3 separate regions of the Homo sapiens genome follow, and all the other regions are linked to region 1. Evidence: fine-mapped expression QTL. A gene starts in region 1. Each other region holds a variant in brackets. All regions are shown on one strand. Distances are between the middles of the regions. Region 1 holds the start of NUP107 (nucleoporin 107). Region 2 overlaps NUP107 (nucleoporin 107). Region 3 has its middle 8.9 kb from the start of CPM.

Region 1 (10,796 bases):
TCACCCATGGTCAGGAGTTTGAGACAAGCCTGGCCAACATGGCAAAACCCCGTTTCTACTAAAAATACAAAAATTAGCCGGGTGTGGTAGCAGACGCCTATAATCCCAGCTACTCTGGAGACTGAGGCAGGAGAATCATTTAAACCTGGGAGGCGGAGGTTGCAGTGAACCAAGATCCCATCACTCCACTCCAGTCTGGGTGACAGAGCGAGACTCCATCTCAAAAAAAAAAAAAAAAAATTAGCTAGGCATGGTGGTACATGCCTGCAGTCCCAACTATTCAGGAGGCTGAGGCTGCAGAATTGCTTAAGCCTGGGAGGTTAAGGCTGCAGTGAGCCATGATTGTGCCACTGCATTTCTGCATTTAGCCTGGGTGACAGAGTGACTGTTTTTTTTTTTGTTTTTTTTTTTTAGACGGAGTCTTGCTCTGTAGCCCAGGCTGGAGTGCAATGGTGCGATCTCAGCTCACTGCAAACTCTGCCTCCCGGGTTCAAGCGATTCTCCTGCCTCAGCCTCTCAAGTAGCTGGGATTACAGGTGTGCACCACCATACCCAACTAATTTTTGTATTTTTAGTAGAGACGAGGTTTCACCATGTTGGCCAGGCTGGTCTTGAACTCCTGACCTCGTGATCTGCCCGCCTCGGCCTCTCAAAGTGCTAGGATTATAGGCATGAGCCACCGCGCCCGGCAACAGAGTGAGACTCTTGTCTCAAAAAACACACACACAAAAATCTGTTGTTTAAGCTACTCTCTCAAGAAAAAAAGACAGAAAGAAAGAAAAGAAAAACATAATGACGTTCAGAAACAGGAAGAAATGGTTTCCTTCATCTTGCTAAAGTGAAAAGCTACTTGTCACAAAGCTCAATGCCATTTTACCAGCTTCTCCAGGATCATCCTCACGTAACATAACAGCACTGATAGTTACATCTTCTGTTATACTGTGGGGCTCTGTGTTTGTGAACAGCCCGGAACGCTGTGATGAAAATGCAGCTGCCCAGTTACTGTCATCCAGATTAGTAACCTTAAAAAAAAACAAAAAAGTAAAAATACAGAAAAGTGATGGAGTTATTGTCACTGAGTGGATACTTTAAAAACAAATAAGGTTTCTAAAAATTATATGTATGTATGCGTCTTTTTTTTTTTTTTTCCCTTCTTGAGATAAGGTCTGGATCTGTTGCCCAGGCTGGAGTTCAGTGGCACGATCATGGCTCAACGCAACCTTTGCCTCTCAGGCTCAAGCCATCTTCCCACTTCAGCCTCCCAAGTAGCTGGGACTACAGGCACGTGCCACCACGCCTGGCTAATTTTTGTATTTTTGGTAGGTATGGGGTTTCACCATGTTGGCCAGGCTGGTCTCAAATTCCTGGCCTCATGTGATCCACCTGCCTCAGCCTCCCAAAATGCTGGGATTACAGATGTGAGCCACCATGCCCGGCTACTATAGTGTATTTTTAATACTTAGGTGAAGTCATTCTGCATCACAGCTTACATAACATTTCTTTTGCTATTTTTAATACTGTTCCATAGTGATTCCTAAAGAGTATCTCACCTACTTTTTCCAATTTTCTCTTTTATCCCCTTTAATACATTTTATCTCTTCCTTAAGATATTCTTCATCTGTTAACCTCTGATTCCTACTCTTGTATGCTTCAAAACAGGGATCAGATTTTATAGCCATCAGCAACCAACCACAGCATGTACTTCTTCTGGTCAGCAAACTGACAGATTAAAACATCTTATTTTCATCTAAAGGTTGCTGGTGTCACAGTTTCCATCTGTGATATCAGATGCATAAGGTTTTCAGTTTTTTTACTGTCTAATTATTTCAATCCATATAACCTAAAGTTACTGTTATGATGATTCTGACTCAATATTTGTTAAAAGACTTTTACATCAAATATCATATTTTTATAAAAAGGGAGAAGTTCTTTTTTCTCTTTTTTTTTTCTTTTGCAATCACAGGTCACTGCAACCTCTGCCTCCTGGGTTCAAGCAATTCTCACACCTCAGCCTCCCGAGCAGCTAGGATTACAGGCATAAGCCACCACTCCCAGCTAATTTTTTTATTGTTAGTAGAGACAGGGTTTTATCATGCTAAGCAGGCTAGTCTCAAACTCCTGACTTCTGGGAGGCCAAGGCGGGAGAATCACTTGAGGTCAGGAGTTCAGGGAGTGCTGAGATTACAGATGTGAGCCACCACACTCGACCCAAAAGGAGTTCTTAGCCCTATTTTTCTACATACCATGGAGAGATTTCCAAAGAACCCTGAAGACTGCGTAAGTCGGGGCGACTTCCCTCCTGTTCCAAGAATGCAGGAAATATCTGGCTGCCTTAGTAAGCTTCGGCTTGTTGGGGTAACTATAAACAAAAGGTTGGTAGAAAGAACCTAAAGTGCGTGAGCATTCATTATCAAAACAAAGTAAGCAAACAAACAATGAAGAATAAATTTTTCAGTTTTCCATTATTTAGACTCTAACCAAATAAATACTTTAAATGTTAACATTTCCATGATACAAGGATTTAACTTATTTTTCTAAATTTGAGCTGTAGGTACTACTGAGCCTAACAGGAAACATTTTACTGCAATTACAGATGCTTTCATTATAGAATAACTGAGCAGTTAAAGACACTAATCAGTCAACGGATTCTTCATATTTTAATTTTATAAGGCATACTGAGGCAGTGCAGTGTAGTGGGCATAAACTTTGGAGTAAACAGATCATTGTTTGAATCCCAGTTCCATTATTTACATACTCTTTTTTTTCTGTCTCAGAACAAAAAAAGAGTATGTAAATAATGGAACTGGGATTTTTTTTTTTTTTGCTCTGTCGCCCCAGCTGGAGTACAGTGGCACAATCTCAGCTCACTGCAACCTCTGCCTTCCGGGTTCAAGCAATTCTCCTGCCTCACCCTCCGGAGTAGCTGGGATTACAGGCATGTGCCACCACGCCAGCTAATTTTTGTATTTTTAGTAGAGATAGGGTTTTGCCATGTTGGCCAAGCTAGTCTTGAACTCCTGGCCTTAAGTGATCCACCCACCTTGGCCTCCCAAAGTGTTGAGATTATAGGCATGGGCCACTGCATCCAGCCTATTTACATACTTATTGTATATATTAGTTAACTTCTCTAAGTCTCACTTTCAGTTTTGGTAAAACAGGGCCAACAATACCCATGTCATAGTTACCGTGTGTTTATGGAAAGTACAGTACCTTGTACATGGCAAGAGTTCAAACGAATAATAACTGCAATCATTATTATTAGTGCTTATTGATATCGTAACCAAATACTATACTAATTATGTTACAATAAATGTTAGTTGCTATTATAATTACCGTTATTATTAAATGCTTTAAAAGCAAAAAATCTTACAAGGCTGTCGAAATGAGCTAGGAGTTCGAGGGATAACCTGGTTTCTTGGTGTAGTATTACCAAAATTTTCATCTTGAGATGCCTGAACTGTACAACGAGTTAAGAAAAGTTTTCCATGTAGAAAAGAGATCACTAAAATGAGAATTAACCATCTTTTTACTATACAAATTATGTGAATACATTTTTCAAGAACAAGTATTTTAGGGCTACCATTTTTCAATGCAAAGGGTAAATAATTCATTGCTTCTGCCATTTAAATGATCAGATGTCAGTCTTAGATAACTACACACTGAACTAAATGTTTTTAGTCAGTTTTCAAATAATAAAAAGAAATCTAATCTCAGCAGAAGCTGTCAGCAGTAAGAAATATCTTTATTTTTAGGGAAATACGATCTCATTAAATTTTTGCATTATATTTACCAAATGACAGCTCTGTGGAGTGAAAAAAAGTTTCTACAGGATTTTATTATAGCTACCATTTAATACTCTTATAAAAAGAAAATTCTACAACACTGATTCCAAACATGTTACAATTTTTATAATGATGCTTAAATCGCAAAGGATACGTAAAACTCTTTTCTGAGCACTCTGTTTCCGTGCAGTCCGTGTCACCTCTGCCTCCCGGATTACAGGGGATGATATCTCTCCAAAGCCACTCCTAAAGTAGTATAATCAAGCTTATATAAGTGAAACGAGAATATAGCATTTATAAAGAATTTTATCATCACAGTTGGAGTAAAGGACCCTGAGTAAGTTAAGGTATAGTCATTCTAGTAGCCAAGTCTTAGATCTTTTGTTGAGAACGCACTCCTGGCTCCAAATCCTGCTTATTCTTCAAAGCCTTACTCAAATCTTACCTGCACAAAGACTTCTCTGACTTTCTAGTACTCACTATGTTATTTTCTCCTAAGGAATTATTTCAACACTTGGAATCTATATTATAACACTGTTTTAGATAATTGCTTCATGAAAGTGAATCTTATTTCCCTTGTTGGATTGAGGAGTTACCTAACTGCAGGAATTCTCTCTTAAAAGATTTTCTGCAGTCTCCAAAATGCTTTAAACCATGGGTACTATTAAAAAACAAACAAACAACAACAACAACAAACAGAGCTTGCAACAACAACAACAAACAGAGCTTGTGAGATAGAAGGGTAAGTAAAAGAATTGTGGTAAATTGGAGCAAAATGACCCTTCAAGTTATTTCAACCCAGGAGGTCTCCTGTCCCATCACAACACTCCCTGTCAGTTTCACTCAAAGGTCTAGAAACTAAATTGTGCGGACTAAAAGGCCTGTGTTTAAGACAAGAATCTAATATGCTTTTCCTCCACTTAAAACCTTCAGATATTCCTTCAGCAGGAAAGTATGGGAAACAACCACATAGAAACAATTTTAAACGTTTAACAATTAAAATTAAAAACAAAAAAAAAAACCTTCAGATAGCTCTCTGGTCTATAGAAGTAAAAATTTCCTAAAATGATATTTACAATGTGACCCCAGTTTAGGGGTTCAGTCTTCTATTCAGCCACAAACATCACTTTAAACGTATACTGCATGTGACCACTGAGCTACACGTACTTTTTTTTCATATCCTAGCACCTCTGAATATGCTTCTTTTACAAAGACCTACATTTGCCCCCTTGAGCACCTGGTCAACAACTACTTACTCCTCAAAGAGCCTCAGGTAGGCTGGAGACACACAGATGCAGGTTGGCAATTTGGTTCTTGTATTTATTAGCTTCCGAACTTTCAGCAAGTTCCTTAACCTCTTTTAGTCTCAGTGTTATATATGAAAAAAGGATAACAGTACCCATCTCATAGGATTTTTCTTGTTCTGAAGATTAAATAAGCTAATAATATATATTCAACGCCTTTAGAACAATGGCAGTCACATAGTAGGTACTCAATGTTTGGAGTACGAATAATGTACTCTTATTATTCAAAGACCAGCTAGAAAGTTACCTTCTTTGAGGGGTCTTCCTGATAGTTACAGTGACAAGGAGACTTAATCGCCCCCAAACACTTACCACTTTACACTGCTTGGTTGTCTCCATTACACAACTAATTCCCCGAGGGGAAGGATCTTGAATAACTGATCTTTGTTGTAGGCGGCTAGCACAGTACCCAGATCATAGAGGGAACTCAGAATCTGATGCTGGCACTTGTAATCAGAAAGTCTGGGCTGAGATCCCAGTATCTTCACTGACTGGCTTTGTGATCTCAGGCTGGTCACTTAGCATTTCGAACGCCGCGCTACCTACCCCGCCCACCCCAGGAGCGAACAGTGTTGCTGCCCCAAAGCGCCGAATAGATCGCAGAACGTAGTGGGAAAGTAAGGGACTATTATGATCTGTACCCCACCCCGACGCACGCCAAGCGGCTTTTTCCCCATTTGTGGCCAAATTTCCCGGCATGGGGAAGGAGCCTTAGGGGAAGCACCCGGGACCTCCTTGGCTTCTTCTGGGAGTCTAGTTTCACCTATTTCGTTTCGCCAACAGGCGAGACGGGCAAGACTTCGGGCTCAGCTGCCACCATCAGTACTGACCTGTCCATGGCTAAAGCCTTTTCCACACACAACCAAAGTTGGCTGCAGTTTAGCTACCGCGTTTTAGCCTTCCCGCTCTCCGGAAGCAAGCCCTTCGACCCGGAAGCAGTCTGTCCCTAAAACAGACCCACAGAAAAGGGGTAGGGGAGAAGAAACAACGTTCCCATCTAGCGCATGCGCGACTTCAGCCTACAGGTGCACGCCCGGTGGGCGCAGGCGCAAAAGTTTGCCAATGTGTTCCTGGTTGCGTTTAGCCCAGACGCCCTGCGGCCGCTTTGCCTGACCAAAGTCTGTGGGCGTGGAACAGGCCCTGGGTTCTCCTACTGGGAAGAATGAAGTATGTTGATAGTCTGGAAAAATGTGAAGTCATTTCCTGGTATTCTCTGTCAGAAAGCGCCTGTTCTTGGAATTCAGATGCGTGGGCTCTGCCCCACACCTCGGGGATCTCTATCTCTCTGCCTACACTCAGTCCTTTGTTCTGTAGCCCCCTGCAGTTTTTGCAACTATTTTCCATAACTGCTATTTGTTCTTTACTTGGTGTTCTTTCCTATTAAGGAGAAAAAGTTCACCTGTATTAAAAAGTAGAAAGGCAAGCGTGAAATATGATGGTATTGCCCTCTATTTCAAAGTGCCGTCTAGGCAAAAAGTGGTGTATTTTGGTCTTGAAGGAGTCAGTCACATTTTTGTTTTGGTTTTTGTTTTTTCCAGTTTGAAAGTAGTGACTGGCTATTAACTGACCAGATTACAAAAATAATGTTAGATGCTTCAGTTTATCCGTTTAATAAGCCTGTTGATATAGTCTTTTCTGTTGCTGGCATTTATACCTTTTATTAATACAAAATAGGTAGTCCTTCATTCTCCCTCGTGGAGAAGATAATTTGAAGGATCACAGGAACTTGAGTTTTTCAACAGCATAGATCTCATGAATCAGATTCTCCAGTCAGATGATGCCATATTTATCAGGAAATCTAGCAATCAAAGCGTTATCTGTTAAGGTAATTTGTTTATTGATTTTGCCATAACCAATTTGTAGATCAGTTCATTTACTGATTTCAGGTTCAGGTACTCCATGTGATATATGGTTCCACAATCCTCAGCGTGTTAACTGAAGCCTTGTTGAGTTTAACAAAGCTGCCATTGAAGATCTGGGGAAAGTGAAGAAGTTGCAACAGAGTTTTGGGCTCACACCATTGATACATTTGATCCTTAAGGCAAGTGACAATTTGGGTTTCACAGGTATATAGAAATTGCCAGCTTTTCTTGCCATATATTTCTTGTGACAGTGCTGAGCTTTTTTTTTTTACTTCTTGCTTGCTTTTTTTTGGACTTGATTTTTTAAATTATGTTTCCTTCCTTCCTTCTTTCTTTGTTTTTTTTTTTTTTGAGACAGGATCTTGTCCTATTGTCCCGGCTTACGTGCAGTGGCACAGTCACGGCTCACTGCAGCCTTGACCTCCTGGGCTCCAGCAATCCTCCTACCTCAGCCTCCCTAGTACCTGAGGTTGCTGGGACCACAGGCACGCACCACCATGCCTGACCTCCTCTCCTCCCCCGTTTTTTAAAAATATTTTGGAGAAATGGGGTCTTATGTTGTTGCCCAGGCTGGTCTCAAACTCTTGGGCTCAAGCCATCCTCTTACCTGGGTCTCCCAAAGTGCTGGGATTACAGGGGTTAGCCACCACATCTGACAGTGCCTAGCTTTTTCATAGATGTAGCTTTCTCCTTGCTTTTCTTTTTCTTTTTTTTCGAGATGGAGTCTCATTCCATTGCCCAGGCTGGAGTGCAGTGGTGCCATCTCGGCTCACTGCAACCTCTGCCTCCTGGGTTCAAGCGATTCTCCTGCCTCAGCCTCCTGAGTAGCTGGGATTACAGGTGTCTGCCACCACACCCGGCTAATTTTTGCGTTTTTGGTAGAGATGGGGTTTCACCATGTTGTCCAGGCTGGTCTTGAACTCCTGACCTCAGGTGATTCACCTGCCTCAGCCTCCCAAAGTGCTGGGATTACAGGCGTGAGCCACTGCGCCTGGCCTTCTCCTTTCTTTTCAAAGCATTTTATGGGCAAACTTCTTTCTCAGGCACTTGACCTTTAGCTCTGTGAAATTCCTTCATGTGTTTTATTTTTATTTTTTGAGACAGAGTCTTGCCCTTTTGCCCAGGCTGGAGTGCAGTGATGCAATCTTGGCTCACTGAAACCTCTGCCTCCCCGGTTCAAGCGATTCTTGTACATCAGCCTCCCAAGTAGCTGGGATTACAGGCGTGCACCACCATGCCCAGCTAATTTTTGTATTTTTAGTAGAGGCGGGGTTTCACCATGCTGGCCAGGCTGGTCTCGAACTCCTGACCTCATGATCCACCCGCCTCGGCCTCCCAAAGTGCTGGGATTACAGGCATGAACCACAGTGCCCAGCCTTCCCTCACATTTTTAAAGGGTTTCTGGCACAGCAGGAATCTTCTTTTTCTTGTCTTCAATACCCTCCATGGTTTCAGCTGGGAAAGAGGAAATCAGTGGAAGTTTTGCCTTAGGCATTTATGTTCTGCTGTAATTCTGGGAAGCATAGTTCCCCGGAAGGCCTCTTCATACCTTATTATCCCCTCTCAGACAACATGGCATTTTGATAAAAACATTGCTTTGGGCTCCATCTAGGTTCAACCCCCCTGCACCTGCAGATTCCTCATCTGTAGAGTGGAGAAAACAATACCTTTGTCAGGGGGTGTTGTGAGGATTAAACAAGATGTCATAGGGAGTCCCTGTCTCTAACATAAGTTTTAAAAATTAGCCACGTGTGGTGACACGTGCCTGTGGTCCCAGCTACTTGGGAGGCTGAGGCAGGAGGATCACTTGATCCTGGCAGGCCGAGGCTGCAATGAGCTATGATCATGCCACTGCACTCCAGCCTGGATGAAAAAGTGAGACTTTGTCTCAAAAAAACAAAACAGACAAACAAAAAAAACAGAGACATCAACTGTATACACTGTACATAGCAGGTCATTGAAATGTTACTTTTCTCCTTTAATAACCTTTCTGAAGAATAATGCCCTGGCATGGTCTCATTCTCCCACCTCCTAATTTTCCTGTATACAAGTTCACTTTTTCTTATGGAAAGTGAAATGTAGTCCTAATCAGAGCTGGGGCAAGTTTATTCAAAGTATGATCTGTGGTTCATGTTCTTGCTCTGTGTCCCTCAGCAGTTGAATTCCAATGAGTTTTATTCGTGTAGTATACTTGAAGTGTACTTGAGGTGATTGACCATGAAGCACACAATAAAAATTAGCCCTGTGTTTGGGGCAAAAAAATTAGCCCTGTGTTCAGTTCATATGCAAAGATGGAAAACTTTTTGGAAAGTGCACTGGGTTTCACTTTTGACACATTTAATTAGTAGGCATGAACACCATAGCAACCCTGCCAAAATTTCAAAACATATTCATTTCATTACCTTAAAAGGATGTGGAATAAATTTCTTATGTGGTGTATATTGTATACATGGTAGCTTTATGTTTAGTATTCTTGGTTGCAATGACAGAAATTGACTATGGTTAACTTAAACAAAAGGGAATTTACTGGAAGCACATCAGGAGATCTTGGAATTGTTAAGAAACTGGAGAAAAGGTCTGGGATAGCACAGCTCCTCAGGAGCTGAAGGCCAGGAAGCGTCTTTCCCAAAGACACTCAAACTCCAACTGTTTGCTCCAGAGCATCCTTCACCTCCCTTATCCCCAACAGCTGAGGCATCAAATATCATTATTTGTACCCCCACCACCCCACCCCAAGTTTTTTTTTTTTTTTTTTTTTGGAAACAGGCTCTTTGGGCCAGGTGCAGTGGCTCACGCCTGTAATCCCAGCACTTTGGGAGGCCGAGGTGGGCGACTCACGAGGTCAGCAGTTCGAGATCATCCTGGCCAACATGGTGAAACCCCATCTCTACTAAAAATATAAACATTAGCCAGGCATGGTGATGGACCCCTGTAATCCCAGTTACTCTGGAGGCTGAGGCAAGAGAATCACTTGAACCCAGGAGGCGGAGGTTGCAGTGAGCCGAGACTGCACCATTGCACTCCAGCCTGGGCGAGAGAGCAACACTCCGTCTCAAAAAAAAAAAAGGGAAAAGAAAAAAGAAACAGGCTCTTTGGATCACTCAGGCTGGAGTTCAGTGGCGCAATCTTGGGTCACTATAGCCTCAGTCTTCTGGGCTCAAGCAATCTTCCCACCTCAGCTTCCTGAGTACCTGGGACTACAGACTCGCACTACCACACCTAGCTAATTGCTAATTTTTTTAATTTATGTTTTTGTAGAAATGGAGTCTCACTATGTTGTTCAGGCTCATCTGGGACTTCTGGGCTCAAGTGATCCTCCTGCTTCGACCTCCCAAAGTCCTAGGATGATAAGCCACCTTGCTCACCCCCTCCCTACTTTTTATTTTGAAAATTTTCAAACCTACAGAAAAGCTTATATAAGAATAGTACAGTAAGGCCGGCTGCAGTGGCTCACACCTGTAATCCCAGCAGTTTGGAAGGCCAAGGTGGGCGGATCACCTGAGGTCAGGAGTTTGAGACCAGCCTGGCCAACATGGTGAAACCCCGCCTCTACTAAAAATACAAAAGAAAGTTAGCCAGGCATGGTGGTGAGTGCCTGTAATCCCAGCTACTTGGGAGGCTGAAGCAGGAAAATCACTTGAACCTGGGAGGCAGAGGTTGCAGTGAGCCAAGATCACGCCACTGCACTCCAGCCTGGGCAACAGAGCGAGACTTGGTCTAAAAAAAAAAAAAAAATAGTACAGTAGACCTCAACATACAATATTTCACCACAATTGCTGTCTTTTTGTTTTTTGGTTTTGGCTGAACCATGTGAAAGTTAGCTGTAGTTATGATACTTCACCCCTAAA
Region 2 (10,796 bases), 27 kb before region 1:
AAGCCTATTCCTCAATTTAATTGGAAATTCTCTGAAAACCAGTTTTACACTACTTTCAATGTTTCACAGCCCCTGAATAGGCTTTCAATTAATTGGAGTTAAAAACAGTATCACTGAATATTTTATTTATCTTACATCTTCTGCCATTCTCCAGCAACTTATTTTCCAAATGCGTCTATATGGATTCCCTTCAACAGGTTCTAATTCTGTTCCTATAAAATAGCAAAAGAAAATTTCTGGTTTAAAATAAGACCTTATTACAATTCTTTCTAAAAAGAGAAGCTATAGTTCACAAAGATTGGCATTTAGAGCGAAATGCCTTTGTCCTCAACTGTCAGAATAAAATCTACTAAAATACCTCCATTAACATTAGGGTCATGGTACAGTTTCCAGCCTTCAAGTGTTGCAGCTCTCCATGCTTGACCACAGCGTTTACAGAGTCGTTGTGCCTTAGAAAACAAGAAAGAGCAGTCAGTCCAATAACCAGGGTGCTTTATAGTAAAGTATAACCAATATATGACAAGCTTAGATAACTTATGGAACAAATGTTCCATCCATCCCATTACAAGGGATGGATGTAGACAGTTAATAATGGAATTCTGGCTGGGCGTGGTGGCTCACGCCTGTAATCCCAACACTTTGGGAGGCCAAGGCAAGTGCATCACCTGAGGTCAGGAGTTCCAGATCAGCCTGGCCAACATGGTGAAACCCCATCTCTACTAAAAACAGGAAAACTAGCCAGGCGCAGTGGCAGGCACCTGTAATCCCAGCTACTCGGGAGGCTGAGGCAGGTGCATCGCTTGAACCCAGGAGGCAGAGGTTGCAGTGAGCCGAAATTGCGCCACTGCACTCCAGCCTGGATGACAGAGTGAGACCCTGTCTCAAAAACTAAATAAATACATACATACATACATACATACATACATACATACATACATACATAATGGCATTCTATTTTTAAAACATATGCATGCCTTTCTGTGGCCTCTGCCTTTATTTTTCTTTCTTTTTTAAATTTTTTTGTAGAGACAGAGTCTCATTATATTGCCCAGGCTGGTCTCGAACTTCTGGACTGAAGGGATCCCCCCTACCTCAGCCTCCCAACGTGTTGGGATTACAGGTATGAGCCACCATACCTGGCCCTGTTTTTATTTCTAAAAAATCCCTTTTCTGTTTGACTTTAGGCTTAACAATACGTTCCCACGGCACCCACTGGCATTTAATTCTGCTAGAAACAAATGGGGTTAAAGAGGTTGATGACCTCTGATTTATGAAAAACTATTAAAAAAACAGTCTCTAATGACAAGGTTGTTACTGCTCATTTACTCCACTGATGATACTGCATGTTCAACTTGACCAATAAGTCAGTAAGTCAATGTGTTTATATACCAGTAAGGTAAATACATGTTTTTGTTCCATCATCCCTTTAGGGAATCACCTTTTCCCCATTCTTGGCTCCTGTGTTTTGGATAGGCCTGATCCGATTCCAGAAATCTAAGGTTAGGGATGTGAGCTAACAAGATTCACCACCAGGACTCTTGGTGGAGATACTGGGAAAGAAAATATACTCCTTTTACTGAGATTGCTAGCTCCATGTAAGCTTGGAGCTTCTTGTATCCATCTCTGATACAACATGGGGAGTAGCTTTCTGGGAATGAAGGCACAGAGAGGAGGGTTGAGCTATGGGTCTTGGACACAGACAGTATCCTAGTGATATCTTTGGAGTTCCTGGATCCTGCTGAAAGCCAGATATACCTTCTATACTTCCCACTTCCATGAGCCAATCAATTCTCCTCTTGTAAGCATAAAGTAACTTAGGTTGGGTTTCTATCACTTGAACCCAGAAAGCCTGATTGATACAACTAGTTAAAGAATATCATACCCCTAACATCATTCTGAACTTATAGCCTTTAAAATCTATGAGAGCTATGTAAGAATTAACATGGAAAACTATTTTGATATGGTATCTTAAAAAGGCAGGATAAAAACTCAATATAGAATGTTGAAAACATTATGCTAAGTGAAATAAGATAGTCACAAAAGCACATTGTATGATTCTACCTATACATCATAGAGACAGTAAGTAGATTAGAGGTTACAGGGGCTGAGGGAAGAAGAGAATGAGGCGTTACTGCATATAATGGTTACAGTTTGTATTTGGGTTGATGAAAAAGTTTTAGAAACAGACAGTGGTGATGGTTTCCCAATACTGTTAATGTAATGAATGCCATGAAGTGCACACTTAAATGATTAAAATGGCACATTTTGTTATATAATATAATAATATATATTATACGATTCACAAAATCAATAATGTAATATACCAAAACCATTGAATGGTGTCACTTGAAATGGGTGAATTACATGGTATGTAAATTTTATCTCAAATTGCTATTAAAAAAGAGGGAAAAAACTTGAATGTATAGTATGACTGCAACTACCTTAAAAAGGAAGACCAAAGAAAAAGGGCTATAAGTAAATACAAAACACTCACTATCTGTGGTTTTATAAAGCTAGTGAGACCTTGAGAATTTCTATTTTTTGAGCCTTCAATAATATGATTGTATTTTTGTTTTTTAAAATAAATCCCATGGCCGGGTGTGGTGGCTCACGCCTGTAATCCTAGCACTTTGGGAGGCTGAGGTAGGCGGACTGCCTGAGCTCAGGAGTTTGAGACCAGCCTGGGCAACACGGTGAAACCACGTCTTTACTAAAATGCAAAAAATTAGCCAGGCGTGGAGGCGTGTGCCTGTATTCCAAGCTACTTGGGAGGCTGAGGCAGGAGAATTGCTTGAACCTGGGAGGCGGAGGTTGCAGTGAGCCGAGATCGCGCCACTGCACTCCAGCCTGGGTGACAGAGCGAGACTCCATCTCAAAAAAAAAAAGAAATTACATAAGAAATTAATATATGCTTATGGTTGATAGCACAGAAGAAAACAAACAACACTTTGAACTGACATAGAATCTGTCTAAAGACCATTGCAAAAAGTACTGTAAACCAAGTACAACATAATACTGAAGCCAAACTCCTACACATCACACTATCTCACCTAAAGAGGCATCTGGTAAACTGTCCAATTAGATACTTATCATTCTACATATAAGATATTAACTATCACCCACATTTTTAAAAGGTAAGGTTAAAAGGAAGAAGTTTGAGGGCCATTGTAGCCTTCAAGTGCCTAAATAGTATCACCTAGAATTAGGGTTAGGTTTATTCTAAACTCTGAAAAATCAGAATTAGAAATAATGAAGATTGGGTCAGGTGCAGTGGCTCATGCCTGCAATCCCAGCACTTTGGGAGGCCAATGCAGGAAGATCACTTGAGCCCAGGTGTTCACGATCAGCCTGGACAACATAGTAAGACTCCGTCTGTACAAAAAATAAAAATGTTAGTTGGGCATAGTGGCGTGTACCTGTAGTCCCAGTTACTCAGGAGGCTGAGGCAGGGCTTGAGCCCGGGAGGTAAGGACTGCAGTGGGCCATGATTATATCACTGCATTCCAGTCTAGGCGACAGTGAGATCCCATCTCAAAAAAAAAAAGAAAGAAAGAAAGAAAGAAAGAAAGAAAAAGGAAAAAAAAATGAATGGAGATTGGGCCAGGTGCAGTGTCTCATGCCTGTAATCCCAGCACTTTTTAAGGCCAAGGCGGGAGGATCACTTAAGGCCAGAAGTTTGAGATTACGCTGGGCAACATGGCAAGACACTGTCTCAAAAAAAAAACAAAAACAAAAACAAAAATCTCAAACGGAACAAAAAAATAAATAATGGGGATATACCTAGAGTATGCAGTGCAATATGGGGAAGAAAAGTATGACTTGTTATAAATAATTTTCTATTAATTAGAGTTGTACAAACTAGATTACATTGTTTTCTCAAGTTACATGTGCCTTATCACCGGAAATGTTCGAACAGGAAGTTAGATCTAGAAATACCATGAATGGAATTACTACATTAAGAAGGCTTACTAGGCAGCCACAAAAATCTCTTCCAACTCAAAGAGTCTATGACTTTTTGAAATTAGACAAGAAGGGTATACATGACTGACCTCTTCTGTCATTCCAGCACGGATTAGAGTAAAGAGATATTTGAGTAATCTAACTTCATCTTCTCTATCCAGATCATCAAGGGGCATTTTCTGTCTTATGGGAGCATCAGGGTCCTGTAAGAAGAAAAAAAAGTCATCATCAACCATAAATCCTTTGTACTTACATACATTTTACACATCATCAAGAGATGATAAACCTATCCTGAGTTTATACACAAATAAATTCATTTTTTCTTTTTTCTTTTCCGAGACGGAGTCTTGTTCTGTCGCCCAGGCTGGAGTGCAGTGGCGCGATCTCAGCACACCACAACCTCCATCTCCTCTGTTCAAGCAATTCTCCTGCCTCGGCCTCCCGAGCAGCTGGGATTATAGGTGCACGCCACCACGCCCAGCTAATTTTTGTATTTTTAGTAGAGACGGGGTTTCACCACGTTGACCAGATTGGTCTCGAACTCCTGACCTCATGATCCACCCACCTCGGCCACCCAAAGTGCTGGGATTACAGGCGTGAACCACTGCGCCTGGCTGAAATAAATTGTTTCAATTTAATTAAGTAACAAAGGGAATGAAGCTCTCACAAGATTACAAGTGTTCCAAATAGCCACATAGTCATCTGCTTCCCTACTTAAAACATACTCAGTTGGCCCACAAAGGGCATGCCTCAGTCAGGCAAGGCAGAAATACTACTAGCCTATCCCAGCCCAGGTAACACTAGAAGATGACTTGAGTTTCACTCTATCACAGCAGCTACATGGTCAAGTTTAAATAGAATTAGACCTAGATGGAAGAAGAACACAAAGCAAAAACCTTCTGTTCTGTGACTACAAAGTGCTTACCTGGTACTTTTTGAGAACATATGGGAAGAGGGCCTATTAAGACCTATTTTGGGATTAATGCCACATAAAAAACACCAATGCCTAATAAAAAAATTTAAACAGATTTCTAATAAATAAGTACAAATCTCCCAAAACAGTTATTTCTACCTACCTTTTTTCCATGTGCTTCTAAGCATTTAGGATAATATATTGTTCTCACTTTAGCAGCAAACAGCACACATGATCTACATGATGGA[T/C]TTCCAATGGAAAACAATTTTAATGTGACTCAAGAAAGGAAGTAATTCTTACTCCACATGTTACTTAGTGTATGGTAATATGAATATCAATTCAGAAAATGGAATACATAATAGATCAATTCACTACTTTCATAAATATTTTGCAAACACATAATTCAATTTTGGAACATGGTCTCTTTCTGGCAAAAGGAAATCACCACTTTCCAGCTGGTAAGATTAAACGATTTTCAGCTGTTGCCTGCTACAATGTAATTTAGCTATAATCAATTTTAAGCTGTTAAGAGTAGTTTCCAAACAATTTTCTTTTTCTTTTTCCCAAACAATTTTCATCAAAAACCTCTTTGTTACTAAATGGAATTCTAGAAGTTTTTTTCAATTGTTACTTATTTCTCTCTTTTCACTATAAACATTTCACGTGCCCTGTCATAAAGCTTCATTCCTTTGTTTTTAGAATAATTCAGCTTCAGTTCTTTTCAAATCCACTTTTCAAATAACCGTTCTAACCTCAAACCAATAAGGCTTTAGTTTTTTTTCACTTGCTTTCAACATAAAAGAGCTTTCATAGGTCAGTCACTACCTTATATAGGCAGTCAAATCTTAAGATAAGACCAAAATTAATTTGTTTTTAATGCTGTCAAGTTAAGTATACTTTCCACAACTTATTACTTACAATTCAAAGGTCACGGATATGTTTCAATATATTCCATCAGATTCCAATGCAACTTAGTTGTTTTAGAGTAAAATGTTAGTGTGTGCAAACCTTTAGAAGAGCAAAACAAAGATCCACGAGAAAAAATTCTCAGCCTGAAAAAAAAAATCAGTTAACTTTGAAGGCAACTTTCATTTCAAAGAACATTTACCAATTCAGTGACAAGCGGACGAACACTTCCAACGTAAGAAGTCAGCTGCCGTTGTTTTAAGGTATGCAGAGTATTTTCCCTGAAAGAAATAATAAGTACCAAATTTTTTAAGAGGTAATTTTAATAGGTCTATTTTTAAAAAATCAAATCAAGTCAAAGGAAGAAAGACAGACTACAATCCCAGTAAAAACATGCAAAAATCCTTAATACAGAAGTACATTTTAGCTCAGATGACTAATGGTGTTGAGGGCTTTTTCATGTCCTTATTGGCCATTCATCTATCTGGTTTCGTGATGTATCAGTTCAAATTTTTGCCCTTTTTACTAGGATTATCTTTCTACTATTGAGTTATAGTTCTTTATGAACTACACATCCCAGTCTGTGGCTTGCTCCCATTTATTTTCTTAATGGTGGGTTTTTTTTTTTTTTTTTTGGAGACAGGGTCTCGCTCTGTTGCCGAGGCTAAAGTGCAGTGGCACAATCATGACTCACTGCAGCCTCGACCTCCCGGACTCAAGTGATCCTCCCATTTCAGTCTCCTGAGTAGCTGGGACTACAGACACGCGCCACCATGCCCTGCTAACATTTTAATATTTTTGTAGAGATGGGGGTCTCACTGTGTTCCCCTGGCTGGTCTTGAACTCCCGGCCTCAAGTAATCCTTCTGCCTCAGCCTCCCAAAGTGCTAGGATTACAGGTGTGAGCCACCATGTCTGGCCAATGGTGTTTTTTTAATGATACATTTTTAATTTTGATAAAGTCAAACCAATTTTTTTGCCTGATTATTGCTTTCTATGAGCTAAGATACATCTATCTATTCTCAAGTTACTAGGATATCTTCCTATGCTTTTCTTTAAAAGCTTTATGGTTTTTAGCTTCTACATTTAGGACTATGACACATCTTGAATTAATTGTTGGGTATGGAGTGAGGGAGCCATCAAGGTTAATCTTCTTTCTCATAGATATCATTTTTCTGCAGTTTGTAAAAAAGGCATTCCATTCCCTGCTGGATTGCTTTGATGTCCTTGTTGAAAACCAAATGACCATATCAGTGTGAATCTATTGTGGGGTTCTCTGTTCTGTTCCGCTGATCAGCAAAAAAAAGGAGATTAACTCATTAAAAATTGTAAAAACCCAACAGGGCATTTTAACTAAAAAAAAAAAACAAAAAACAAAAAACAAAAAAAAAAACTTATTTTCTGAAAATGAAAACTTCCTTTCAGAAAAAAAATCACATCCACTTAAGATTTAATTTTTAACAAATGCTTAGTAGCAGTAATTTCCTAGCTAAGCAGAGAAAATATATAATTGACTTACAGACTTTGTACACATATTACTGAATTCAAAGGCAATCTGGCAATCTGACTTTTTTTTTTTTTTTTTTTTTTTTTGAGATGGAGTTTTGCTCTTTTTACCCAGGCTGGAGTGCAATGGCGTGATCTTGGCTCACTGGTGCCCGCCACCACGACTGGCTAATTTTTGTATTTTTAGTAGAGATGCGGTTTTACCATGTTGGCCAGACTGCTCTTGAACTCCTGATCTCAGGTGATCCACCTGCCTTGGCCTCCCAAAGTGCTAGGATTACAGGTGTGAGCCACTGTACCTGCCCGCAATCTGACCTTTTAAAAATCTTTTGCAAGTCTTAAACCATGCCCAGCCACAATCTGACCTTTTAAAAATCTTTTGCAAGACTTAAAATAAACTGTCCCTTTAACTTAGGGGAGGTTTCTGGCTTCAAGGGCCTATAATAATTTAGAAGTACTGAAGAGTGTAAGCAAAAGCAAGACAAAACAAAACAAACCCACACAAGTAGCTGAAAACAGGACAGAAGTGTCTTCTTGACAATCAGAAGATCATCTTCTGATATGATCAATAATCTTATTAAGAAAAAAGCAGGCAGGTGATTGTTTGAAAACATAAATTGGACCATGTCATTCTTCTATTCTCAAGGTTTCCCATCACATTTAGAATAAAGTCCAGAATAGTTACATTTGTCTGCCTGTAAAAGCCCTATATCTGGCTTCCTCCAGTCTTGTTTTCTACCATTCTTTTCCTTGCTGTGTTCCCACTGGCTTCTTTGTGCAAACACTTTACGTTCTCTGGGTCATTCCAGTTTGTTTTCCTGCTCAGAATAGTTATCCCCCAGATTTTTGCATGGCTGGCTGCCTTTATTTCATAAAAGTCTCTTACTACCTTAGAAAAGCCTTCTCTTCAATTTAAAGTAGGACTCCCTGTCGTATCTATCCATTAATTCTAATCCTTTTTTTTTTTTTTGAGGTGGAGTCTCGCTCTGTCACCCAGGCTGGAGTGCAGTGGAGCGATCTTGGCTCACTGCAAGCTCTGCCTCCCAGGTTCAAGCTCCTGTCATATCAGTATTTAAATACAGAATTCAGGATCTCCTACTTTAAAAACAATCTCCCTTCTGAGTTACTTTTATTTTATTTATTTATTTATTTTTTGAGACAGGGTCTCACTCTGTCACCCAGGCTGGAGTGCAGTGGCGCAATCTCGGCTCACTGCAACCTCTGCCTCCTGGGTTCAAGCGATTCTCCTGCCTCAGCCTCCCAAGTAGCTGGGACTACAGGCGCCCGCCACCACGCCTGGCTAATTTTTTGTATTTTTAGTAGAGATGGGTTTCACCGCATTAGCCAGGATGGTCTTGATCTCCTGACTTCGTGATCCGCCCGCCACCACGCCTGGCTAATTTTTTGTATTTTTAGTAGAGATGGGTTTTACCGCATTAGCCAGGATGGTCTTGATCTCCTGACTTCGTGATCCACCCGCCTCAGCCTCCCAAAGTGCTGGGATTACAGGTGTGAACCACAGCGCCGAGCCTCTAATTCATTTTTTTCCCCAAAGCTCGGAATACCCAACAGAATATACATTTGTCTCTTGGTATCCATAGGGGACCCTACTTGGATACCAAAATCCAAGGGTGCTCAGATCCTTTACATAAAATATTGTATTATTTGTATATAACCTACACATGTTCTCCCATATACTTTATATCATCTCGATTACTTAGAATACCTAATACAACGTAAATGTTATGCAAATAACTATTATACTATATTTTTAAATTTGTATTACTTTTTTTATCTTGTTATTTTTATTGTTTTATTCCAATTATTTCTTTTCTGTTTTTTTTTTTTTTTTTTAAGACGGCCTGCTCTGTCGCCCAGGCTGGAGTGCAATGGCATGAACTCGGCTCACTGCAACCTCCACCTCCTGGATTTCAGCGATTCTCCTGCCTCAGCCTCCCAAGTAGCTGGGATTACAGGTGTGCGTCACCAAACCCGGCTAATTTTTGTATTTTTAGCAGAGACAGGGTTTTACCATGTTGGTCAGGCTGGTCTGGAACTCCTGACCTCGTGATCCCCCACCTTGGCCTCCCAAAGTGCTGGGATTACAGGCGTGAGCCATCACACCCGGCTTGTTTTATTCCAATTATTTCTGATCTGCAGTTTGTTCAATCCATGGATGCGAAACCCACAAACTCAGAGGGCCAACTGTATATTTGCAAATCAGCTATCTAACTCTCTTAAACAATTATAAATTCCATAAAGGCAAAGCCTTTATTTGTTTTGCTCACACACCAAACAAAGTAGTGTGAACAAAGTAGTGTGAACAAAGTAAAAACTGAATAATACTTATTGAAAGATGAATGAACAATATCAACATTGAGTGACCTTAAGAATTAAAGTTTGGTAACTTACCAATATACTGATTTTGCATAAAACTCAATATTATCAGAAAATTCTCCAATTTCATCTTTGGCAATACTCTCTAACCAATCTACCACCAGCTAAGAAAGAAAGAAAAAAATAAATTAGTGTTAACTACCAAATCTATTTGTGTTTTATTTGTAGTGGTACTACTACCCTTAATTCAAACAGTTTCAGATTTTTTATTTTTTTTTTTGAGAAAGAGTCTCACTCTGTCGTGCAGGCTGGAGTGCAGTGGCATAATCTCGGCTCACTGCAAGCTCTGCCTCCTGGGTTCACGTCATTCTCCTGCCTCAGCCTCCCAAGTAGCTGGGACTACAGGCGCCCACCACCACACCCAGCTAATTTTTTTTTTATTTTTAGTAGAGACGGGGTTTCACTGTTAGCCAGATGGTCTCGATCTCCTGACCTCGAGATCTGCCTGCCCTGGCCTCCCAAAGTGCTGGGATTACAGGCGTGAAGTTTCTGATTTTAAAAATATCAAGTAACAATTTTTCCAAACACTATTTTTACTTTAAGATAAATAAATATTATGGCAAAAGAATAAAATTTTCTATAGGAATAATCGTTTTTAACAGGCTATTCCTGAAAATACTAGGGCTATTACTTAAAAATCAAAGAATAAGGTTTCTAATTCCTTTTAATTGCAAATAAAAAGATCAAGTAGAAAAAAAATTCAGAAAACAGTTTTAAGTTAAAAAACACTTCAGTACTTTGCATGTCATTAACCTTTTCTCCATGTTTCATAAAAAAAAATTTTAAATTCTAGTCATACCTGACTTTGTCGAACAAGTGAATCCCTCTGAAATAACGCTTCCACAACTGTTTTTTCACTGGCATTAACAGCCTATTATGAAAAATATTAAAAGGATAAACAGAATGAAAAGAAGATGCTGTTAAGAAATATTATTTTAATAGAAAGATAAAAAGCCAGTATGAAACAAGTACAGTTAATCATCTATACATAAACATTTTACCACATAGTAAATCTGTATATTCATCATTGAAAGGTATCTATTGTGTAAATTCCAAACTGCTACATCAATTGTAGCTGCTCTTACCTGGTATATTGATTCTTTACACTTGAAATT
Region 3 (10,796 bases), 250 kb before region 1:
CCACCATGCCTGGCTATTTTTCATATTTTTAGTAGAGATATGGTTTTGCCATGTTGGCCAGGCTGGTCTTGAACTCCTGATTTCAGGTGATCTATGTGTCTTGGCCTCCCAAAGTGCTGGGATTACAGGCATGAGCCATTGCACCCGGCCTCAAAATTATTTCTAATGTGTGCAAAGATATCTGATAAAAACTACATGACTATGTAAAATAAAACATACTATTTCCTCTGCCTGGACTTTCTATTTCTTCACCCTTCAAGTTACAGCTTAAACAGATCCATCTTCTGGAAGCTTTTTTGAACTCCACTTAACTCCATTTCAACTCAATGAGCACCTTCTGTGCTCTTGAATGCAGGTTTCTGATGACTTTGGAGGTTGTGCCACTGGAATAGAGGGAAAAAACTTCTAGGACTTTCATGGAGAGCTTATGTGTTCATGAATATTGAGCAGAACAGGAGTTATTTGCATGGACTGAGCAAACAGAAGACCAAAATAATCTTTTTATGATTTTTTGCTTAAAACGTTGCTTATTCTTTGTGTTTTTCAGAGTCAAGAAAACTTTTTTATTTGGAGCTATTTACAGCTTTTAACAACTGAGTAAAATACACTCCAGTGAGCAAATTTTGGAGCGCATTTCTTTCTCTCTACCTTATTTCTCTGTAATTTGGAAACTATGTCTACGTATACTTAATTTATGGTAGTATCGCTATTTGCATAAGTTCAGTAAGCATCTGTTTTCTTTTGTAACAGGACACTATTAGAGACACTAGTTATTTTACCAAGGCTTTGACTGGAATGACATGTTTTCAGACTTTTCAGACTGCTTTGAGGAATTGAGGTTGAGCTACAGAGCTGATAAAAATTCCTTGGAAAAACTGGCCACCTTGTTTTTACAAGGTTCCCAACCTGTGGTAAGTAAAAATGTCCCTTTCTGATAGGCCTAGGAATCCCAAGTTATTTTGGTACCTCTAGAAATGAGGAATTCATTCAATTCATACAGGTATCTGCAGGCACAAATAAATCTTTGGCTGGGCTCAAGATGCTTTTAAAAGGTCTAATCTGAGATTCCTTATTAAAAAAACATCCAGCAAAGCCAATTTTTTAAAAAGGCCTATATAGCAAATAATTATTCATGTTATGTTTCATGCAAACAATTAGGCCTAGTATAAATAAAACCAAAGCTTATTTTGCAAATAAATTGGTCCTGCTATGATTTGTCTTTGGTAAAAATGGGGGAAAACTGGAGAGGGAAAAATTATGTTTCAAAAAAAACCTATAGCATGCCTGTTATTAGATTCTAGCCTTGGCTGGGCACAGTGGCTCACACCTGTAATCCCAACATTTTGAGAGGCCGAGGCAGGAGGATGAATCACTTGAGCCCAGAAGTTCGAGACCAGCCTGGGCAACATAGGGAGACCCCATCTCTACAAAAAATTATTTAAAAATTAGCTGGGTGTGGTGGTGCACACCTGTAGTCCCAGCTACTTGGAAGGCTGAGATGGCAGGATCACTTTAGCCCTAGAGGTCGAGGCTTCAGTGAGCTCTGATCATGCCACTGCACTCCAGCCTGGGCAACAGAGTGAGACACTGTCTCAAAAAAAAAAAAAAAAAAAAAAAAGAAAGAAAGAAAAGAAAAGAAAAAAATTCTAGCCTTGTCCATTGTTTGTGAGCCTATACTAATGACTCACATCTGATTGGTTCTTGGGGATATTTACCTGAATCCCTCAAGGCTTCAGATCAGTTCTGCAAGGACTCCTGAAGCTAAGACTTTCACACCTTGCATTAGGTCTCTTGTAGTTTACTGTTCTCTTAAGTGCTATACTAACGATGTGGATAAGAATACTAACGTTTTTGTTATACCAACATTGGGGACCCAACAAGGCACCTGGGAATACATACAGACAACTGCAAAATGGTTTCACTCCTCTTACCTTGGGGGCAACCCTTGCCCCAACTATACCCCCTGTCAACAGGAAGAGCAGTTGTCAGCCTTTTCCCATCTCCCCAGCTCACACCTCAGGATTGAGGTGTGCTGAAGCACAAGGGAGGGAACTGAAACCACCTTTGCAAAGATTATGACAGCAAGAAAAGTCTAACTTGACTGACTCCATCTTGCTTCTAGTCTCACAGGCTGGCTGTCTTTGCTAATTCCTGGGGGCACAAAGAGCTAACCATGGGAGGGATTTAGTTTATAGTTTCACTTGGAAGCAAGGATGATAACAGTCCCTCCCTAAAACTAATCTCCTCCTTGCTTAGAGAGTGAAAACTAATGAAAGGCCACAAGATTAGGGTTATTGGAGGGACCTGAATTCTGCTAAAGTATAGGTATACTTTTATAATCCCTTACTGCTCAGGAGTCATGTGGCCAGAGGTCACAAGATTTGTGACTTCCCCAATTGCTCTTATAGATAACATCACTACTGTAGAACTTAAGATTGGTCTCTTGAGATGTTTTTCAGATTTTTGTATTCTGGCCATCAACTGATCCTACCTGGACTCATGACTCATGACTCAACTGGTCCTGTGGCCCCCACCCAGAGGCAGACTCAGCTCACTGGGACAGTTTTCCACACCCCTATGATTTTTTTCCCAACTAATCAGCAGTACCCATTACCTAGTCCCCGCCCACCAAACTATCTTTAAAAATCCTAACGTCTGAGTTCTCAGAAAGACTGATTTGAGTGGTAACTCCAGTCTTTCTGCTCTGCTGCCTTGTCACTTCTTTATTGTAATTTAAAAAAAAAAAACAAAAAACAAGGTGAAGGAGCCAGGCATGGTGTCTCATGCCTATCATTCCTGTATTTTGGGAGGCTGAGCTGGGCGGATGACTTGAAGCCAAGAGTTTGAGACCATCCTGTGCAACGAAGTGAGGCCCCATATCTACAAAAAATAAATTATCTGGGTGTTGTGGCATGTGTCTGTAGTCCCAACTGCTCAGAAGGCTGAGATGGGAGGATTGCTTAAGCCCAGAAGTTCAAGGCTTCAGTGAGCTATGATTATACCACTGCACTCCAGCCTGGGCAACAGAGCAAGAAACTGTCTAAAAAGAAAAAAAGTAAGTACGTTCTGATAGTATGTCTCATAATATCCTGTAATTTTCTTTCTGTAATAGGCATCAAAATGGCAACTGAGTGACTGCTTATCTCTGTATCATCTTTCCCAATACAATATGAACTCTATCAAAGTGAGGACTATGTTTCTCTTTTACACCATGGTATTCATAGTGCTTAGCATATTATTAGATGTTCATTAAATAATTATCAACAGAAGGAATGAATGAACCAATTAATCATGAGTCATGAGGAGACAAAAGAATTTGTTTGGCTATTGTCTGAGTATATTTATAATTTGACTTTCCAGAGGTCATTGTTGAATAGATATGATGTATGCTGTTTTCAAAAGGGTCATTGAAAAGTAAATGATTAGATGAACTTACAAATTATTAACTATCTTCAAACAGTCTCTTTGTCACTCTGCTATATATACATTTTTCCCTTCTTCCCACACTCCCCCTGCCTTTCTTTCTGCTACAGGTACAGGGTATTAACAAAGATGGCAGATTCTTTCTCAAATATACAGTTTTTAAAAAAAAAAAAATCCAGAAATGGTTTTCTCGACATTTGAAACAAAGCTAGAAAAGAAATAAATTTCAGTAAGTATATTGTTTCCTAAGAGACAAGAGTATGACTTTCATCTGCTGTTATGTCAGATTGTTTGATATCACACAATCCAGATTAAATGCAGCTAAATAGGACTGTCTTTGCTTTGGAAATCGGCCTTATTAGAGCCAAGAAGCTTTCTTGCAAATCTATAATATAAACAAAGTATAGTAGGAGAAGTAAGCATTATTTTGCACTCAAAGACCATGAGTTTAAGAGAAAAAGTCACTATTGTAACAATTGCTTTGTAATTGTAAATTATCACAAATTTATGGTTGATAAAGGTCTATTCCACTATTGCAAATATGTTGGAAGGAGCTGGGATGTGGAAATAAATAAGATAAATATAAACATATACTATCTGTTGTATCCCTTTCTGTCTTGTTCATCTTCACTAGATGGTAATAATAATAAAAATGAATTCAGCTTGGGACTTATAAAGCATTTATAACAGGCCAGACACTGTTTGTTCTAAACTCTTTGTATATGTTAACTCATTTAATATATGCAACCCTGTAAGGTCACTATAATCCTCTAAGATCAATACCATGAGTTAGCCCAGTTTACAGAAAAGGACATGAATGCACCAAGAGGTGCAGTGACTTGCTCAGGGCACACAGTAAGCGACAGAGCTGGGGTTTAAGCTAAGATGGTGTGGTTCCACAGACCTTACTTTTAATAATTTACTATTTTAGTTATTACATATAATCTCTTGATGCTATATTCTTCCTAGAATAACACTTATAAATCAGCAAGCATGCACTGAGCTCTGACCTAGATGCCATGGGGGAAACAAAAAATGACACCATTTGATGCTTCACTCACTCTATTTGGGGTGTCTTCCTGAACTGAAATTAATTTCAAACGTTTAGATTTTTCCTGACATTGTTTCTCAGCTGATGTGTTAGGGCATACTGGAGTGTCAAACTTTGATCTGATTACATTTTAATTTTGCTTCACCAACAGTAGATAGAATGTGAAGCTAAGAAGGTCATGCTGTGCAGTACAGAATGTGGTACAAACCACTAGGGGATAAGACACAAGAAGCAGAAAGTAATATTATGCCAGCTCCCCAAGAAAGATCACAGGTTTCTTTGAACATGTGAAATTCTTTAGTGGAGATTTTTGGCTCTTGTAGAATGTAAGCTACCTAAGGGCAGAGATTTGTTCTGTCTTGTTTACAGTCGTATTCCCTAGGAGCAAGTGCAGTGCCTGACACAGAGTAAACAATAAATAATTGATAAGGAAATGAATGAATAATTAAAAATCAGAGAGTGGGGCAAAGCAGAAATAGGTTTACTCTCACAGTGACATAGTGCCAACAAGGGACAATAGTGTGATAACGGTGCATGATTTTATAGTCATTGCTGTGTATTTTTATATTCTTCCTATGGTACGCTTTTTGATTATGTAGATAGCATTTTTTTAGTCCTTTTCTTTCTTTGTGCCATGAAAAATTCTAGGATTCAGAAATTTATCACGAACACAAATGTGTATACAAATCCTTTCTAAATCTCTCAAAGGAATACTAATGCATTTACAGTTGCACATCCAAAATAAAAGAACTACTCTGTTTGGTTTTTGATAGACAACTTGCATAACAAACAGAAAACACAGCCA[C/T]AATTTCTAGAGAAATGCTTATTAAAAAGACATACAGTTCTAAAAAACAAAGTCTACTAATAAAAAAATAAAGGAACAATTTTTAAAAGATGCACAGCCAAGACTACAGAGTCCTTGTTTTAAACAGAGAATGCTTGAGTTGAGACATATTCTTTCAATCTCTGAGTCCCACTGTTTAGACATCACCCGTGGTAGTTTAGGGAAAGGATCATCTTGGACCTTAACAAAAACCATCCAGCTTTTCACTAACAATTTTCTTATCTCTAGCTATAAATAGCAATCTTTCCTTTCTGAAGAATTGCAAGGTCACTTTCCTTTTTTATCAAAAACAAACAAATCCGGTTTTGCTGGGGGTACTGATCTGAGTTGGGGGAGCTACTTTGAAGGAGGTAGGTTTAGTACTGGGGGAGGTACCAGGAGATCCCAGCTTAAGATAAATGCCCAAACTCCCTCAGATACATGAGAAGCAGCAGACAATAGAAAGAATCATTGAGCAGCATTAGTATAAGGCATTATATTCTACTTGTGAAATTTCAAGAAAATGTGTCTTTAAGGCCTAGGCAGGCAGATCACTTGAGGCCAGAAGTTCGAGACCAGCCTGGGCAACATGGTGAGACTCTGTATCTACAAAAAATACACAAAAAAATAGCCATGCGTGGTGGTACACACCTGTAGTCCCAGCTACCCGGGAGGCTCAGGTGGGAGGATTACTTAAGCCTGGGAGGTTAAGGCTACAGTGAGCTGTGATCACGTCACTGCACTCCAGCCTGGGCAACAGAGCCAGACCCTGTCTCAAAAACAAACAAACAAACAAAAAACAAAATAATGTAAAATAAGTTTTACCTTATTGGGCGAGTTATTTCTGAGCGACCATTTGATGCTTCACTCACACTATTTGGGGTGACTTCCTGAACTGAAATTAATTTCAAATGTTTAGATTTTTCCTGACATTGTTTCTCAGCTGATGTGTTAGCTTTATATACACACACACACACACACACACACACACACACACGTACTCAGCACATCTTCAAATTACTTCTGTAGCACAAAAACACACAAATTGACCAATGGAACAGAAATAAGCCAGTCACAAAAAGACAAATATTGCATGATTCCACTTATATTAGGAATCTAAACTAGTCAGACTTTTAGAAAGAATGTTGGTAGCCAGGAGCAGGAGAGAGAGAGAAAAGGTGGGTTGTTGTTCAGTGGGTATAGAGTTTCAGTTTTGCAAGGTTTGAAAAAGTTCTAGAGCTCTATTGCACAACAGTGTGCATAGAGTTAACACAACTGCACTGTACACTTAGAAACAGTTAAGATGGTAATTTTATATGTTTTATAGCACAATAATTTAAAAAATATAGGAAGGACATGGTCTCAGAATAAAGGGCCATCTTTTATCATAAAGAAAAATTTGCAACCCAATTCCAACATGTTAAGGTGTTCTCTTCTTGTTGTTTCATTGAGAACTGCTAAAAGTCTCAGTGCCCTTCTCATTTGGATGGTGGTCCTACTCAAACGTTTGGAGACCAAAGCCCCATTTGGTAATAAGAAGGATGTGTTGCCTGGCCTGGTGCTCTGGGCATATACACTTCAGGAGAACCTTTCGTAGGTAGGGGTTAAGGATTGGAATCTGTCCTGACAGAACAATGTCTTCACACAATTAACACATAGTTCACATACTAGATGAAAACAAATTCCAAGTGGACTACAAATATAAATCTGGGGGAGGGAGAGAGGGATGAATAGGTGGAGCACAGGGGATCACTAGGGCCATGAAATTATTCTGTATGATACTGTAATGTTGGATACATGCCATTATACATTTGTAAAAACTCATAGCATATGCAATATAAACTATAGATTTAGTTAATAATAATGTGTCAATATTGGCTCATCAATTTTAACAGATGTGACACGCTAACGCCAAGATGTTAATAATAAGGGAAACTGTGTATGTGGGTAGGGCAGGAAAAGGGTATATGGGAACCCTATACTTTCTGTTCAATTTTTCTGCAAATCTCAAACTGCTCTAAAAAAATTAATTTTAAAAAATGAGATGAAAGAAGAAAAATGAAAAAATAAAAATACCAAAGAAATAAAAATAGAAGAAAATATAAATTAATTTATAATTTAAGAATAAACTTTCTAAGAATATATCAAAAAACTATGAATCCAGAAGGAAAAGACTAATACACAACCAGAAAAATGAGCAAAAGCTATTAATAGACTATTTTTTAAAAGAAGAACAATAAATGTTCAATAAGACTATGAGAGAAATGTTCAGTCACATTAATACTAAAACTTAAAATTATGAGATTTCATTTTTATCTATGAAATTGGCAAACATTTTTAAAAGAGATAATAGTAATCATGAGGAGCCAAACAGGCATTTTCACATATCACCAGTGAGGACTGTAAATTGGAATGACCTTTGGTCAGAAAAAATTTTTCAAAACTTGGAAAGCAAAATATGATTGCATAATTTGTTTTCATGTTAGGCATTGCCTAACCAGTCCATCTAAGGTGAATTGAATCCTGACTCGTTATTACAGATTTGCACATTTTACAACTGTAAATTCAAATGTTAGTTTGTAGAAAATTGGTGAGATGCTATATTTTTGTCCAATGGAGATATAATTTCTGTCCTGCACAGATGAAAATAATTTTGCTCTGTAAAGATAGCACCAAACATTATGGTTTATCACCCTGTAAGACATTAATCAGATTTATATCTAATTTAGCAATAATGTAGAATGATTTTAGTATTCTTTTTTATATATTTATGTATATATATAGGATGTATATTTACATATGTATATTATATATAGTATGTATATACATAATATAAATACAATATGTATATAGGTATGTGTACACATAATACATATACTATATGTATATATGTACATAATATACATAAGTATATACATCATATACATATATGATGTCTATATGTATAGACATCATATACATTATGGGATGTACATACATATATACATAACATATACATATATTATGTATATATTATTATAGATATATGTACATATATACATACATATATGTATGTAGTAAATGTATATATAGATACATATGTGTATACATATATAGATGTATGTACATATATCTATGTATATACTTATAGATGTATGTACATAATATCTATATATATACTTACAGATATATTTATATAATATCTATATACTTACATATATGTACTATGTATATTTAGATATATACACATATTTATACATATATGCATATACACATATACATATATATGTATGTACATATATAAATAGATATACATAATATATGTATATACACATATAGATATATATGTACACATATAGATATACGTGTGTGTGTGTGTGTATACACACATATTTTCTCATGTCTTTCTTTGAACTGGCTTTGTTATCCTGCTGGTTTCCTCATTAATAAGTTAAAATTAAAACTTGAACTGTGCTTACTCTATATTTGTATGAGAATACTTTTTAACATTTTTTAAATTATACATTTGACATTTTATAGGAGTATAACTTGGCCAAATATTTTAAGTCTTAAAAGTGTACATGCTTTTTAACCTAGCAATTACATGTCTAAGAAATGATCCTAAGGAGGTAAGGACATGCTCAAAGGTTTAGCTCTGAGAATGTTTCTAGATGTGCTGTGTATAATAAAGAAATACCAGAAACAAATGTGCCACATTAGGGCGCTGGTTAATACCTAAATGTGTGTGTGTTTGTTTGATTGTTTTGGGGTTTGGGGATTTTTTTTTTTTAAGACAGAGTCTCATTCTGTCACCCAGAATGGAGTGCCATGCGATCATGGCTCACTGCAACCTCAAACCCCTGGGGTCAAGCAATCCTCCTGCCCCAGCCTCCTCAGTAGCTGGGACTACCTTGCCCCATCCCTAAATGTGTTTTAAGAATGGTTGTTTCCAGGTAAGTAAAATTTGTAAGTTTAAAATTTTTCTTTTATCTTGTTCAGATTTTCTTGTGACACTTTCAAAGAAAAAAGTTTGAAAGTCACAAAGTCTAGTTATACTGTTCTCATTCTTGTTGACATCTATTGAGGTACTTAGCCCCGACTATAGTTATTCCCTCTGTCCCAATTCCTGCTACTATCTTAGGGAAATTCAGAGTCCTTAAACAGAACCAATCCAACACTCTGGCTTTTTCATTCCTTAATTTCCCATTTCCAGTGATCTTTACCTCCTCTTCACTTTTGTAATTCACTCTAAGATATTTTGATCCTGTTTTCATTCAGAATTAGTCATTGGTCCTCTCTAACACTTTTGTGCTTTTTCCTCTGCTTTGCTTTTAAATTAAAATGCCTTCATTGTTTTTCCAATTTAAAAAAGCAATGCATGTTTGGTGGAAAAACTTTTCAGAAAATACAGAAAGATGTAAAAAAGAAAATTAAAACATTGCAACTCGTGGATTTGCACTCAGCATGTTGGTAACCTTAGAAACACATTGCTGGGAATAGTTTTTTTTTGTTTGCTTTATCTAAATGAGATCTTACTATTTATTTTACTTTTATTATCTGCTTCTTGCCTGAACAATTTGTCTTTCCAAGTGAATAAATGCAGATCTACATTGACATTATTATGGCTGAAAAACAATTAATTGTACAGCTATAATATTCTTTAACCCAGGGTGTCTTAACTTCAGCACTATTGACATTTTGGGCTGAATAATTCTTTGTTGTGGGAGGCTGTGTTGTGCACTGAAGGATATTTAATGCCTCCCTGCCCTCTGTATCAGCACTAGATGCCAGTAGCTCCCATCCCTAGTTATGACAATCAAAAATGTCTCAAGATATTGCCAAATGTCTGCTGTGGGCACTACTGCCTCAAGTTGAGAACCACTGATCTAACCAATCTGCTGTTGTTTGACATTTAGGTTTTATCTACTTTGTCACAATTTAAAGCAGCAGCACTTATGAAGCTCCTAACATATACAAACTCAACACATCTTCAAATTACTTCTATAGCATAAATTTCTAGCAAGGAATGGCACATACAAAATTTTGATGTCTATTCCCAGATTTCCCTCCAGAAAGATTGTATTAATTTAGAACACCATTGAAACAGCATAAATGTCATTTCCTGAGATCCTGTCTACTTCCAGGTATTGTCAATCTTTTTAATCTTGCTTTGTGATAAGCAAAACAAAGTATTACTTTACCCTTTTAACTTGTAATTCTTTGATTGCTTACCAGGTTGGTAACCTTTACTATATTTATTAGCTATTTGTGTTACTGCTTTTATGAACTGCTTATTCATCTCCTTTGCTCATTCTTTATTTTGTAAGAGCATTAATTCCTTCTTCCAGCTTGTAATTTTTCTCATAACCTGATTTAAACCTTTCTTCTTATAACCTTTATAAGGTTTTCTGTACAGAAGTCATACATTTGTATGTTTTCAAATTATTAGCCTTTTTATTATGGTTTTACCTTTAATGGTGCCATACTTAGAAAGATCACCTCTAGGTCCAGGCCTGGTGG

The links. PIP is the estimated chance that this variant, and not a neighbour inherited with it, causes the effect.
Region 2: its variant is fine-mapped to the expression of NUP107 in tibial nerve (GTEx, PIP above 0.99). The same link has a PIP of 0.9 or more in B cells, Th1/17 cells, Th2 cells, caudate, esophagus muscle and follicular helper T cells.
Region 3: its variant is fine-mapped to the expression of NUP107 in cerebellum (GTEx, PIP 0.97).

What each region holds. Positions count from the first base shown.
Region 1 is chr12:68,682,194-68,692,989 of GRCh38, reverse strand. NUP107 (nucleoporin 107) reads right to left here and starts at 6,012. Exons shown (of 28, transcript NM_020401.4): 1 at 5,917-6,012; 2 at 3,937-4,028; 3 at 3,371-3,457; 4 at 2,244-2,359; 5 at 878-1,022. The coding sequence starts at 5,924. It overlaps LOC100507250 (a long non-coding RNA gene), which reads left to right and starts at 6,131. Exons shown (of 3, transcript NR_038930.1): 1 at 6,131-6,253; 2 at 6,973-7,127. It also overlaps the pseudogene RPL7P42.
Region 2 is chr12:68,708,994-68,719,789 of GRCh38, reverse strand. NUP107 (nucleoporin 107) reads right to left here. Exons shown (of 28, transcript NM_020401.4): 9 at 10,481-10,552; 10 at 9,697-9,785; 11 at 5,982-6,060; 12 at 4,050-4,163; 13 at 359-449; 14 at 136-212. Among named protein-coding and RNA genes, the nearest start is that of NUP107, 27 kb to the right of the region's middle. The variant T/C (reference allele first, on the strand shown) is at 5,122.
Region 3 is chr12:68,936,669-68,947,464 of GRCh38, reverse strand. It overlaps a transcript of CPM not described here. Among named protein-coding and RNA genes, the nearest start is that of CPM, 8.9 kb to the right of the region's middle. The variant C/T (reference allele first, on the strand shown) is at 5,280.